Homo sapiens: one gene and its partner. The protein of the gene in region 1 interacts with the protein of each later gene in a biochemical or structural test. Each region holds a gene or a part of one and is shown in the gene's direction. Other genes may lie near its edges. The genes, in order: USP32 and RAB35.

What was found.
Region 2: the proteins of USP32 (region 1) and RAB35 form a complex in vitro, tested with the Homo sapiens proteins (one study listed by BioGRID).

The regions. Positions count from the first base shown.
Region 1 is NC_000017.11:60,207,123-60,214,413, reverse strand, and holds part of USP32 (ubiquitin carboxyl-terminal hydrolase 32), read left to right. Parts: intron 1-751; coding exon 752-833; intron 834-2,315; coding exon 2,316-2,390; intron 2,391-2,899; coding exon 2,900-3,038; intron 3,039-3,295; coding exon 3,296-3,401; intron 3,402-4,870; coding exon 4,871-5,044; intron 5,045-5,585; coding exon 5,586-5,760; intron 5,761-6,203; coding exon 6,204-6,355; intron 6,356-7,281; coding exon 7,282-7,291. UniProt on the Homo sapiens protein: Deubiquitinase that can remove conjugated ubiquitin from target proteins, such as RAB7A and LAMTOR1.
Region 2 is NC_000012.12:120,094,570-120,100,015, reverse strand, and holds the end of RAB35 (ras-related protein Rab-35), read left to right. Parts: intron 1-861; coding exon 862-986; intron 987-1,080; coding exon 1,081-1,205; intron 1,206-2,642; coding exon 2,643-2,771; 3' UTR 2,772-4,917; downstream 4,918-5,446. UniProt on the Homo sapiens protein: The small GTPases Rab are key regulators of intracellular membrane trafficking, from the formation of transport vesicles to their fusion with membranes.

The DNA.
Region 1 (7,291 bases):
TATCAGTGAAAAGTTCATCTTTTAAGTTACTATATGTATACTTGTAATATTTGTCTCTGAGATCCATAATAGCAATTGATCACCATGGACAGTACTATCTTTCAAAGATTATTGTTACATATAAAGATTACATGTTACAAAGATTATATGTTACATTATAAACTAATGGTGTGGCCGAGCACAGTGGCTCACGCCTGTAATCCCATCACTTTGGGAGGCCGAGGTGGCTGGAGCACCAGAGGTCAGGAGTTTGAGACCAGCCTGGCCAACGTGGTGAAACCCTGTCTCTACTAAAAATACAAAAATTAGCTGGGCATGGCGGTGGGAGCCTGTAGTCCCAGCTACTCAGAAGGCTGAGGCAGGAGAATTGCTTGAACCCAGAGGCAGAGGTTGCAGTGAGCCAAGATAGTGCCACTATACTCCAGCCTGGGCAACAGAGCCAGACTCCATCTTTAAAAAAAAAAAAAACAAAAAACAAAACGTATTCATGTAACCAAACACCACCTGTTCCCCAAAAACCTATTGAAATTTTAAAAAAGAGAAAGATAACGCTTATGAAGTACACATTGTCTTTCTGTCATACTGCCACCTAAGTTATAAATATTTATGAACAACTATAGTAGGCCAGATATTTGTGATATGTTATATAACTACAAAGAAGTTGTTTTTTTAATTGTTACTCATTTTTATCTCTGTATTTGTTTCAAGTTTACTAACCAAATAACAAAAACATTTCCTCCTCCTTACACAGAACTACCTTACTCTTCTGGATGATGAGGATCATAAATTGGAATATTTGAAAATCCAGGATGAACAACACCTGGTAATTGAAGGTACAAGATGGAAGCATGCATCTATATTAAATTTTCAAGGGGAAGAATTTAAAGAGTTACTAATAACCCATTTTATAATTTTCTCCAAAACAACTATTATTTGATTATTATGTTTTTATGATAAAGAAACCCTTTGGAAAAAAAAGAAAAAGAAAACCCTTTGAACTCTTATGTAATCCTACCATACAATTTAGATTGCTTTAAAGGGAAAATATTCTGTTTTTAGTCATTGACTGACAAAGAATGGGAATGGTAGATAAAAAACAAGTGAATTCAGTTTACACATTTATAGTTCCTTAAAATTTTCAAGTTGCTGCTTTGAGTTTGAGTAAAAAGAACAACTTTCTTGCATAGTTAGTAGCACAGGCTTTCATTAGTCACCAACATTGGCTACTCACTGACAGAGCTATTTGTATATTCATAGATTTACACACTGGCATGCACATGCCATTAAAAACTTTTTAAGTGTATCTTTTCCCATCAAGTTTTGTGGCAACATTGTTAGCTGCCTTTGTATTAAAATGAATAGGCCGGGCGCAGTGGCTCACGCCTGTAATCCCAGCACTTTGGGAGGCTGAGATGGGTGGATCACTTGAGGTCAGGAGTTCCAGACCAGCCTGGACAACATGGTGAAATCTGTCTCTGCTAAAAATACAAAAATTAGCTGGGTGTGGTGGCACGTGCCTGTAGTCCCAGCTACTCAGGAAGCTGAGGCACGAGAATCAGTCAAGCCCAGGAGGCGGAGGTTGCAGTGACTCAAGATCACATCACTGCACTCCAACCTGGGGGGACAAAGCCAGACTGTCTCAAAAAAAAAAAAAGGAATAAATTACTCTGACAGTTGTTACAATTTAAGAAAGAATTGTAATTTCTAATGTTTTAAGTATAAGAAATTCCATTGTTTCTGAACTTTAATTACTTCTGTAGATGGTTGAGTATAATTTTACTTCAAGTAGGTAATTGAGGGATAAGATTATTCAAACCAAGTGACTTTAAAGTCCTCAATATGAAGAGTAGGAATGGTTTTAGAGCCAATTACAGGCATGTGCTGCAAAAAGATGTTTGTCAACAAAAGACCTGTATACAGCAGTGGTCCCATAAGATTATAATACTGTATTTTTAGTTGTGCCTTTTCTATGTTCTAACATGTTTAGATACACAAATACTTACCATTGTGTTACACTTGCCTACAGTATTCAATGCAGTAACATACTGTACAGGTTTGTAGCCAAGGAGCGACAGCCTATACCATACATAGCCTAGGTTTGTGTAGGTACACTCTGTGATGTTCACACAAAGACAAAATCACCTAATGATGCATTTCTCAGAATATAACCTCGTCGTTAAGCAATGTATGTACTAAAATTAACTAGATTTTAAAACTTCTGATTTAGGAATAAGATGTCTTTAAAAAAAAAAAGCAATCGAATGGGTATAAATTAGATAGATAAGAAATTAACACATTCCTATCTGTCCTTCCAGTTCGCAACAAAGATATGAGTTGGCCTGAGGAGATGTCTTTTATAGCAAATAGTAGTAAAATAGATAGACACAAGGGTAAGTCTCCAGTATTATTTTTTAAAGAGATTATTTTAAATGTATTCTTTTTTTTTCTTCTCTCAACTGTTAAAGTGCTAACAACTTTTGGTTTTCTAGTTCAAAAGTAATTAGGGCCTTCTTCTTTTTCTTTTTTCCTGAAGCAGCATTTGATGTTGGCAAACCCACCATCAAATTATTTTCTAAATTTCTTTCTAACTCTGCAATTAAATAATTTATATGTTTTAAAAGACATACTAGAAGAAGAATTGTTTGAATTATTTTGAAAAATCATAGCAATTAAAAAGAATAATTGCTGCTTCTGGGTTACAAATGAGCATGGATCATCACTGTTGCCAGACACTCCATGAAAAGCCTTCTCTAGCATTTCAGAGACCTGCTAGAGAATTATTAGCACCATTTAGCTGATTATGAGAGTTATAAAAAACCTTTTCATTGAATATAAGTAACTGTTTGTGCCATGGCATATTACTACAGCTAAGCTTTGGTTCTCATATTGTTTGTTCCAGTTCCCACAGAAAAGGGAGCCACAGGTCTAAGCAATCTGGGAAACACATGCTTCATGAACTCAAGCATCCAGTGTGTTAGTAACACACAGCCACTGACACAGTATTTTATCTCAGGGAGACATCTTTATGAACTCAACAGGTAATCTTTCTGGAGTCACTGGCCTCTTAACCTGTGACTTTGATATAAACCCAATATCACCTAAATTTCCTCTTTTTTCACCCTGTGGGAGAAAGATTTTATCTTATTTGCCCTATTTAATATGAAATAGGCCAAGGAATACATCTCTTGTTTCAAAAAGAAAAGATATTTTGATGTGAGATGCTAGGCATTTTTGCGCCCACATGATTGTGATTTATGAGAATCTTTGGCAACAAATTTTCCTCTCAAACTTCTAGGACAAATCCCATTGGTATGAAGGGGCATATGGCTAAATGCTATGGTGATTTAGTGCAGGAACTTTGGAGTGGAACTCAGAAGAATGTTGCCCCATTAAAGCTTCGGGTAAGCAGGTTAAAATAATATAAAAGTATTTAATTCCTAATAGTTGTTTAATCATTTTTCTCTGCTTGTTTTTTGTGTTTAGCCTTTTAACTTAATAAATGTTTTTGGATCCTTCACTTGGTATAAACAAAAGGTCAAATTCTTTTGCTTGTTTAAATATATGCAAAATTACTACTGTATATGTAGTGGGTAGGATAAAGACCAAAGGTACACTCTAAATTCGGGATGTCATTCATTTTACTAATTTGTCAAACATCTTATATGAAGAGTAAACCTTTTTTGGTAATACTTCACTATTAGCAGTATTCTAACTGCAAGGTGGACCTCAGAGTCTTATTAATTACATCCAATCCAATCCATTTTCAACGTAACTAAGATAGTTCTATCTGTAGAATACAAAGAAGTAGGCTGGGCGCAGGGGCTCACGCCTGTAATCTCAGCACTTTGGGAGGCCGAGGTGGGTGGATCACTTGAGGCCAGGAGTTCAAGACCAGCCTGGACAAGATGGCGAAACCCTGTCTCTACTAAAAAAAATTAGCCGGGCATAGTGGTGCATGCTTGTAATCCCAGCTACTTGGGAGGCTGAGGCACGAGAAACGCTTGAACCTGGGAGGTGGTGTTTGCAATGAGCCAAGATCGCACCACTGTACTCCAGCCTGGGCAACAGAGTAAGACTCTGTCTCCAAAAAGAAAAAAAAAAAGTAGAAGGATGAATGAATGAAACTAATGAATATAAGTTTTATATTAATATCAGATGTAGTAGATTTTAGTGAAGTTAGGATTATTCATTATTTTTATTTAAATACAAAGCAAAAGCTTTTTATATTACAAATTATTAACTATAACAGCTACACATTTGACTACTTACCTCTTGCCAGGCACTATTCTAATTAATTTATATCCTCAAAATAATTCTATAATATAATGCAGTTAATAAAATTTAGGATGCAACAAGACCAGAAAATGTAATTGTTGAAGACAACATTATATTATATAAAATAATGTATACACATATTATTTTATACATGTTATGTATTATTATATACACATTATTTTATGCATATGTTATGTATATACTATGTACCTATAAAATATACATATTTTATATGCATATAAAAATGTAAAACGTTATAGAACAGGATGTCTTTCAATGTGAGCAAACGCTGTTTTAATGTTTCTGTCTTAAATAACATCTGTGTGCCTGAAGAACAGTTTGCTTACATAATACTGAACTGAGGACACAGTATTGCACAGTATTGGCCAAAATACTTCTCTTTTTTTGGGGGGGGTCATTTGACATTAAGATTCAAAAGATTTCATGATTATCCAAAATATATTTGTTGAAATAGAGGCAGACTAAGTACTATACTATTTATTTTCTTACAATGGCTCTGATTGGATTATAGGACATGTTCATTCCAAATTTTATGGGTAGGAAATAATGACTGTGACTTCTCTTATATTTATAGTGGACCATAGCAAAATATGCTCCCAGGTTTAATGGGTTTCAGCAACAGGACTCCCAAGAACTTCTGGCTTTTCTCTTGGATGGTCTTCATGAAGATCTTAATCGAGTCCATGAAAAGCCATATGTGGAACTGAAGGACAGTGATGGGCGACCAGACTGGGAAGTAGCTGCAGAGGTTTGTCAGTTTTGAGTTTCTAATGTAAGCAATAGACAAAATGTTCTGGCCACAAATACATGTAGCACAACTTAAATGCAAACTCAACTATTCTGAGATCAGAACTTTACTGCAAAAATGAATGAATTTCTATTTCTGTGCTTAATTCTTATGCAATAATGCCAAAACAAAAATACGTTTAATGAAAATAGAAAACTGTTGCCATTTCATATTGTAAACTTTATGGGACTGGATGTAGGAATAATTATCCAGTGGAATTTAAAGAGTCCCCGTAATTGCTAAAGTAATGGATACAGTGACCTATAGGCATGCTTTATACTTGTTAATGGACAAATAACTTTAATATTTACCATTGTTACCTTGATAAGAACAAATGAAAAATAGGATTTTCCATCTCAATTTAATATTTTATGTTAAATGAAGAGTAAGGATTATATTCTTTACATTTAAATCCAATATATTTAACTAGCTTCTTTGAATTTATATAGAAATGCTTCTCTTTTGGATTTTGAGAGAAAATTCTCATCTTTTTTATTGCTAGGCCTGGGACAACCATCTAAGAAGAAATAGATCAATTGTTGTGGATTTGTTCCATGGGCAGCTAAGATCTCAAGTAAAATGCAAGACATGTGGGCATATAAGTGTCCGATTTGACCCTTTCAATTTTTTGTCTTTGCCACTACCAATGGACAGTTATATGCACTTAGAAATAACAGGTAGGTCAGAAAGTTCTGAAAAATTACTTGACTCCATTAAATTTACTTTATTTAAATAGCCTGAATTTGTAAGCATAGTTATTTGTTTACAAATAAAGACCGGTAGTCAGCATATTATAATTGAGCAACCTAATTTTAGGCATGACTTGAGGTTTGAAAGATGTAGACTGGGGCATGTTTTTTTGGTTTCAAATATGCCAGCAACTCTCTTTAAAACCCTGCAAAGCCACTGATACTTTTATGTCAGATGAACACCAAAAAAATACTGATTTCACTTAATATTATCCCTAAGTACCATCTGTTTTAGTGTTTACACATAAAATAAAAATTCTAGGCTGAAATATTTGCTATTATATTTACAGGTCAGATATATCTGTACACAGCATTTAAGACTTTCAATGAAACCTGCATTTTACCAATAAAAGATCTTTTCTCTTTACTAGTGATTAAGTTAGATGGTACTACCCCTGTACGGTATGGACTAAGACTGAATATGGATGAAAAGTACACAGGTTTAAAAAAACAGCTGAGTGATCTCTGTGGACTTAATTCAGAACAAATCCTTCTAGCAGAAGTACATGGTTCCAACATAAAGGTAATATTAACTACTCTAAGAAACTTTTGATTCTATCCTCCAAAGATGACATTTTTCTCAATTATTATGATCAATTGTTAGGTTATGTGACCAAGAGAGATACTAAAACATAACGAAAACTGAACAACAACAACAAAAAATGCCAAGTTTTCCAACCCAGAAACTTAAGAGTTTTCTACCAGAATAAAGGGATAATACTGATGGTGGTATTTTTGAAGAAGGGAAATACGTAAGGCTGCCTATATGGAGTGTTCTAGCTGTGTCACTATAGTATAGGTTTCCACCAAAGACTGCTGCTGTTACCAAAGACTGCTGCTATTACCCTTGACAACTCTTCTGTATTACCGCTGTTACTAGAATTCTTCCTAGGTTAAAGTATTTTATGTATTTATGAATGTGTGTTTTTAGTATTTATGAATATATATACTTGGTCTTTTAACACACTAAGAAATTAAGAGTAAAGACAAATTGACACCAATCATGTCTTTCTACATACCAGCTGGGGAAACAAATAATCTAATAAATATATTGCCTACTCTAAATTAAGCTCCTGCAACTGGTATTATTTATATTCATCTTTGGGATTTCTGAACACACTCTCACCTCACTGACAGTTTCTTAATATGAAATGCAAAAATGGAGTCTCTGAGGGTTGGAATTTAGATCCCTGAAACGGACAAAACTGAAGTCAGTCGTATATAACACACTTCTTCCTGTGAAAAGAGATAATAGTTCGAAAATTGAGGTTAGTTTTCCGTTATTTTTATCAAGCATTCATCCTTTATGTAGTTGAAAAATTATTCAATCATCTCGTTGGTTTTACGGATGAAAGCGCCTAAGACATTCTTTTGAAATATGTTAGAGAGAGAACTTTTCCATTTTATCTGAAACATCTCCCCCTTCTCATCTTGCTTCTGTTTCTGTAGAACTTTCCTC
Region 2 (5,446 bases), on another chromosome or scaffold:
GGGTGGAGGTCCCTGCGGCTTTGGGGAGAGGGGACAGAGGGACAGCTCTGGCTGATTGCACAGTGTGGGGCGGGGCTGCCGCCTGGCCTCCGGCTCTTCGACAGCTCTCGGGGAAGCGGAGGCTGTGGTCCCCCTCCTCCTCCGGGGATTGATGTCGTCCTGTGCCACTGGGATGAATGGGGACATGGGGTCTGGAGAGGAGAGTTGGGCCTCCCCTTCCTTCTGGCCTTCCTGGCTGGCCCTGGGCTCTGCATGTTTGGGGTGATGGCTTTGCTGGGCGCCCTCTCCCCAGCCATCCCTGGATGCTTGTGTGGCTTCCATGCTTTTCCTGCCACCTGCACAGATGAGCCAAGAGTAGCAGGAAGGGAGGTGCCTACCTGCCCCAGGGGAGGGGCACAGACTTTGCCAGGGCGTCATGATGGTGTGGCTTCTTGGAAAGGTTCTCTAAAACAGGTTTGAGGAGCAAATATTTTTTTGAATGTTCAAAGACAGTGATAACATGATGTCAAATACAAAAACTGCCTGATTTCCCAAAATAAAGCAAGAACTTCAAAGATGTTTCAAGCCTGCAGCAGACTCTGAACAGCAGGAGGTGACTCCTCAGACCTGCTCTGCTGCCCAGGGGCTGGCCCTCCCGCCCTGTTGGTGCCCCGGGCGGGCAGGGGGAGTCAGTGCTGCCGCAGTAGCCTCTCCTGCTGGCCTGTTGTGGCTCGGGGGCATCTGCCGAGGCTGAGTGAGAGCCCAGGCTCCAGGGCCACCCTCACCTTTTCCGGGTCAGTGTCCTGACGTGGGCAGGTGGGTCCCGGCAAGGGGGTGACTCCTGTCGGGGTTGACATGCTGCCGCACACTCTGGCCCTGCAGGTATTATCGGGGGACCCACGGGGTCATTGTGGTTTACGACGTCACCAGTGCCGAGTCCTTTGTCAACGTCAAGCGGTGGCTTCACGAAATCAACCAGAACTGTGATGATGTGTGCCGAATATTAGGTGAGGCTGCACTCAGGGCCGGGTCGGGGTTGGGTGGGAGAGAGGCAGCCGGCTGCGCCCCTCAGGGCTGCGCTGACTCTGCCTTCGTTTGAAGTGGGTAATAAGAATGACGACCCTGAGCGGAAGGTGGTGGAGACGGAAGATGCCTACAAATTCGCCGGGCAGATGGGCATCCAGTTGTTCGAGACCAGCGCCAAGGAGAATGTCAACGTGGAAGAGGTGAGGCCCTGGGCCACTGTGGCTCTGCCACACACCCGTGGCCGCCTTCTCCATGCTGCTGGCCTGCTTGAGGCATCTAAATGACCAACAGAAAATGTCATAGTAACTGCCATTTATTGAGTGCCTACTATGTGCCAGGCCCTTTAACGATCTTAGTTCATAGTTCAACAGTCCTCTGAGGTAGGTACAATTATACCCACATTTCAAATAGGGAAACTGAGGCTCCAAGTGTTGAAGTAACTCAAGGACCACCACCTGGCTAGTAAGAGACTGAGTAAACCTCTGTCCCACACCAAAGCCAAGCACAGTTTCCACTCCAGTCCTCTGCCTCATTGGCCGCCTTGTGCTGTGTGGAGCCCAGAGGCCTGTGGAAGTCGAGGATCCCACTGCTTCAGGGCACAGGGGCCACACAGCAGCGGGCACAGGCTCCTTTGTAAGTCAGGCTGGTGTCCTGATGCTGGCCCATCCACCTGGGCCTGTGGGCAAGGCTGGTATGACCTTGGGCGGTGACTTCACCTCTCTGGGCCCCACATGCCATGAAGTGGCGTGGAGCAGGCAGACCCCGGGTCACCTATGTCCGTGAACAGCAGGGGCACTTTCATCTGTCATGTCATAAGATTCCAGCTGGGCCGGGCGCGCCGGCTCACGCCTGTAATCTCAGTGCTTTGGGAGGCCGAGGCGGGCGGATCACGAGGTCAGGAGATCGAGACCATCCTGGCTAACATGGTGGAACCCTGTCTCTACTAAAAATACAAAAAAATTAGCCGGGCGTGGTGGTGGGCGCCTGTAGTCCCAGCTACTCGGGAGGCTGAGGCAGGAGAATGGTGTGAACCAGGGAGGCAGAGTTTGCAGTGAGCTGAGATCACGCCACTGCACTCCAGCCTGGGCGACAGAGCGAGACTCCATCTCACAAAAAAAAAAAAAAAAAAAAGATTCCAGCTGAAGGAAAGGGGTTGGTCTCTCTAAAAGAAGGACTGGAAAACCCCTGTGAGATTGACTTCCCCAAGTCCACACAGCTCATGGGCCTCTGATGGTGTTCCTTTTTTCAGACTTATTTATTTGTTGAGTCAGGGTCTAACTCTGTCATCCAGGCTGGAGTGCAGTGGTGTGTTCACAGCCCACTGTAGTCTCGATCTCCTGGGCTCAAGTAATCCTCCCACCTTAGCTTCTCAAGTAGCTGGGACTACAGGTGTGCACCACCACTCCCGGCTAATTTTTGTGTTTTTTGTAGAGGTGGGGTTTTAGCAATGTTGTTCCTTTTTGACCTTTAAATAAAATAATTCACCACCTCCTTCTAGAATAGGCTTTGAAGACATACATACCAAAAATGCACAGGTAGAAAGAGCTGGGCCCCGGAAGGCGGGGAGGCAGCCGTGCAGGCCAGCAGGGGCCTCCTGGCCAGGTCTGAGGCGGGCCCTTCCTCTTTCCTCTCCACAGATGTTCAACTGCATCACGGAGCTGGTCCTCCGAGCAAAGAAAGACAACCTGGCAAAACAGCAGCAGCAACAACAGAACGATGTGGTGAAGCTCACGAAGAACAGTAAACGAAAGAAACGCTGCTGCTAATGGCACCCAGTCCACTGCAGAGACTGCACTGCGGTCCCTCCCCCAGCCCGAGGCCCACGGAGGTTCCTCGGGGGACAGTCTCAGTTTCGTGCCGTTATTTAAAGAATTCTCTCCATGTTTTTGTATCGGGAGGTGCCATCGGCACTTCCTCCCCCGCCCTCCTCGAGTGCCAAGAAGGTGTTGGACCAGCCCGCCCTTCCCTACTGGTGCCCCCTCCTCCCCGGCCAAGGCGCCTGGACCTGGCGAGGACGCTGCCCGCCGAGCGGACTGATTCGCAGAGTCTGTACATAGTGTATATTGCTCTACCCGGCCGCACACCACGTCCTGCTCTGGCTTTTGCCTTCTTGATGCCAGCCTGCTGCAACAGACCCTCCCCGCGCCCCTCCCCAGCCCATCTTACTGCAAGCAGCGTCCTGAGGAGACAGCGGCACGTTCTAGCTGCGTCTGCGGCCAGCCCGTGCCAGTGGAGTGGGCTCCGCGTTGCTCATTCTCTCCGACAGGTTGTCAGCCTCTGTCCCCGCTGCACAGGGTCTTGCCCCTTCTCCGGGGCCTGTGCCAGCTCCCTTCCCTCCCCGTTGTCCTGTCCCCACAGCCATTCTGGGAGCTGGGGAACCTGGTCTCAAGGCAGGCCCTGCAGTTCCACAGAGGTGGCAGGTCTTGCCCTTTGGCCAACAGATTTCTTGTCCTGCCTTCTAGATGCCTCTGAGCTCCAAACCCAGGGCAGCCATGGCTTCTCATTTACACCAACAGGTTTCAGTTCCAACAGAAAGGTCGGGGTAGGTTCGTGCAGAGATGGGGCTGGCAGGGGGGCTATGGGAGGATTATTTTAACAGATCAAGAAAATGAAGCCAAATCAAGTGAATTAAATTCCTCACAATTATTTTCTTTCCCTGAGGTTTGATTGGCACAGCAGCAAAAGTTGAGGCCACCCCACTTGTGTCCACTGTTTTTAGAAAAAAATGAATGGCTTCCTGCCATTGTGGGGCTGGACTCTTGGGCTTTCTTGGTGGGAGCGGAGAAGGGGCCTCCCACCCTTGTCCGAGTTGCCTCCCACTGGAGGTCAGGAGTCTACACTGCAGCCTCGGGCACTGTGGGGAGTGCATGCCTGGGGCCTCTGGGTGGGGACCATGGACAGGCCCTGGTCACTGTCCTAACCTTTGTCAGGACAAAGGTAGCAAGAGGATTTCCTGGCGGGTGGGAAGGAATGGCTGGGGCGGCCAGTTTTGACACGCCCCAGTGCCCTGGAGAACAACCAGGGTCATCTGCACTTGATGACTGCTCCCCGACCCCCAGCCCGGACACCTCATTCCCCTCCCACTACAGGGATCAAGTGACCTGGGAAGAACCGAGTTTAACACCAGGATGTGTTTCCTTAGATTTCCTTTCCTAGGCGATTTCCAGGGAGAGCCCTGATTGGACAATCACATCACAGATCACACTGCAGTTTCCATGTTAGCACTGTGGATGGGTTTTTAATCAATAAAAACTGGGGGTTTCTTCTCACCGACTCTCCACTTGCCCAAACTGCCAAAAGCTGGTGATTCTGGGACAGGCCTTCACTTTGGAGCCACGGGATGGGGTGGGGGAGCCCCATGGGCCTGGGAAGGAGGGTGCTGTGGAGGGGGCTGCAGGGCTGACCAGCAGGCAGCCTCATCTGGTCGGGGGCGGGGGCGGCAGGAGCAGAAGCGGGGTCTCCGTCCTTGGGACTGTCCTGGTTGGCCACGGGCCCTGAGGATGCACGGTGCCTGGGGCTCCTGTGCCGGTGGGCGGGGGGCATGCTGGCCTCTGAGCGATCAGGCGAGGCCAGCGAGGGTGTGCTTGCAAATTCAAGCAATAAGAGGGGGGTTCCTGGGGGCTTCCAGCCCAGGCTAGAAGCCCCCATGGCTTCTGGCAGCTGGACATCAGCCCCAGGTATTGGGGTGATTTTGGTCATGACAGTGTGCCTGTCCCACTGTTACACGCATGAATGGGGGTTATGGGGTGGGGGTGGGGACTCAGGGCTGGACCGACGTCCTAGTGGACCTGATGTGAAATTCCTGTCAAACAAACACCACTTTTCAATGGTTTGCTAGGAGTATTTCTGTATTGAAAGTTTCTAATTATGCTTTTTAAAAAAATACTAAAAATAAAGGTTCAAGCTGCCAAATTTTCTTCCAGGGTCTGTTTGCTCTCCCTCCAGAGATGTGCTGAGTGGCCGTGGCTTCTTCCCACCCACCGTGTCCTGCTCTTCCCTGTTCTTGGCCTAAGTCTTGCACAGGAGCCTGTCGAGGCCCTTGGGACACTTCCAGAAGCCAGGTCCATTTTCTCCATGAACAGGTGGGCCAGGGTTGAGTCTCCCCCTAGTTGGACTGGGAGCACATGTGGTAAGATGCCAGGGGAAGCTCCGTGTTTATCCTCCACATGCCTGGAAGGATGCAGTGGAAGCCTTTGCCTGGCGTGGTTTCTTTCTGGCTTGAAGTTTCTGCCAAGCTTTAGGGCCCTGCTGGCCTGGGAAGCAGCGTTGGCAGGCCTGCCTTGCGGATGGCACGCTGCAGCACTGGCAGGGGGCAGTGCCAGGCGGGAGGGGCAGGGGAGGATGCCCTTCCTGGCCAAATCCCTTGGTTAAGTAAGTACCAGCATCTGAGGTGGCCCGGGTGCAGGGGAACCACTATTGCTACCTCTCCAGCAGCAGCCAG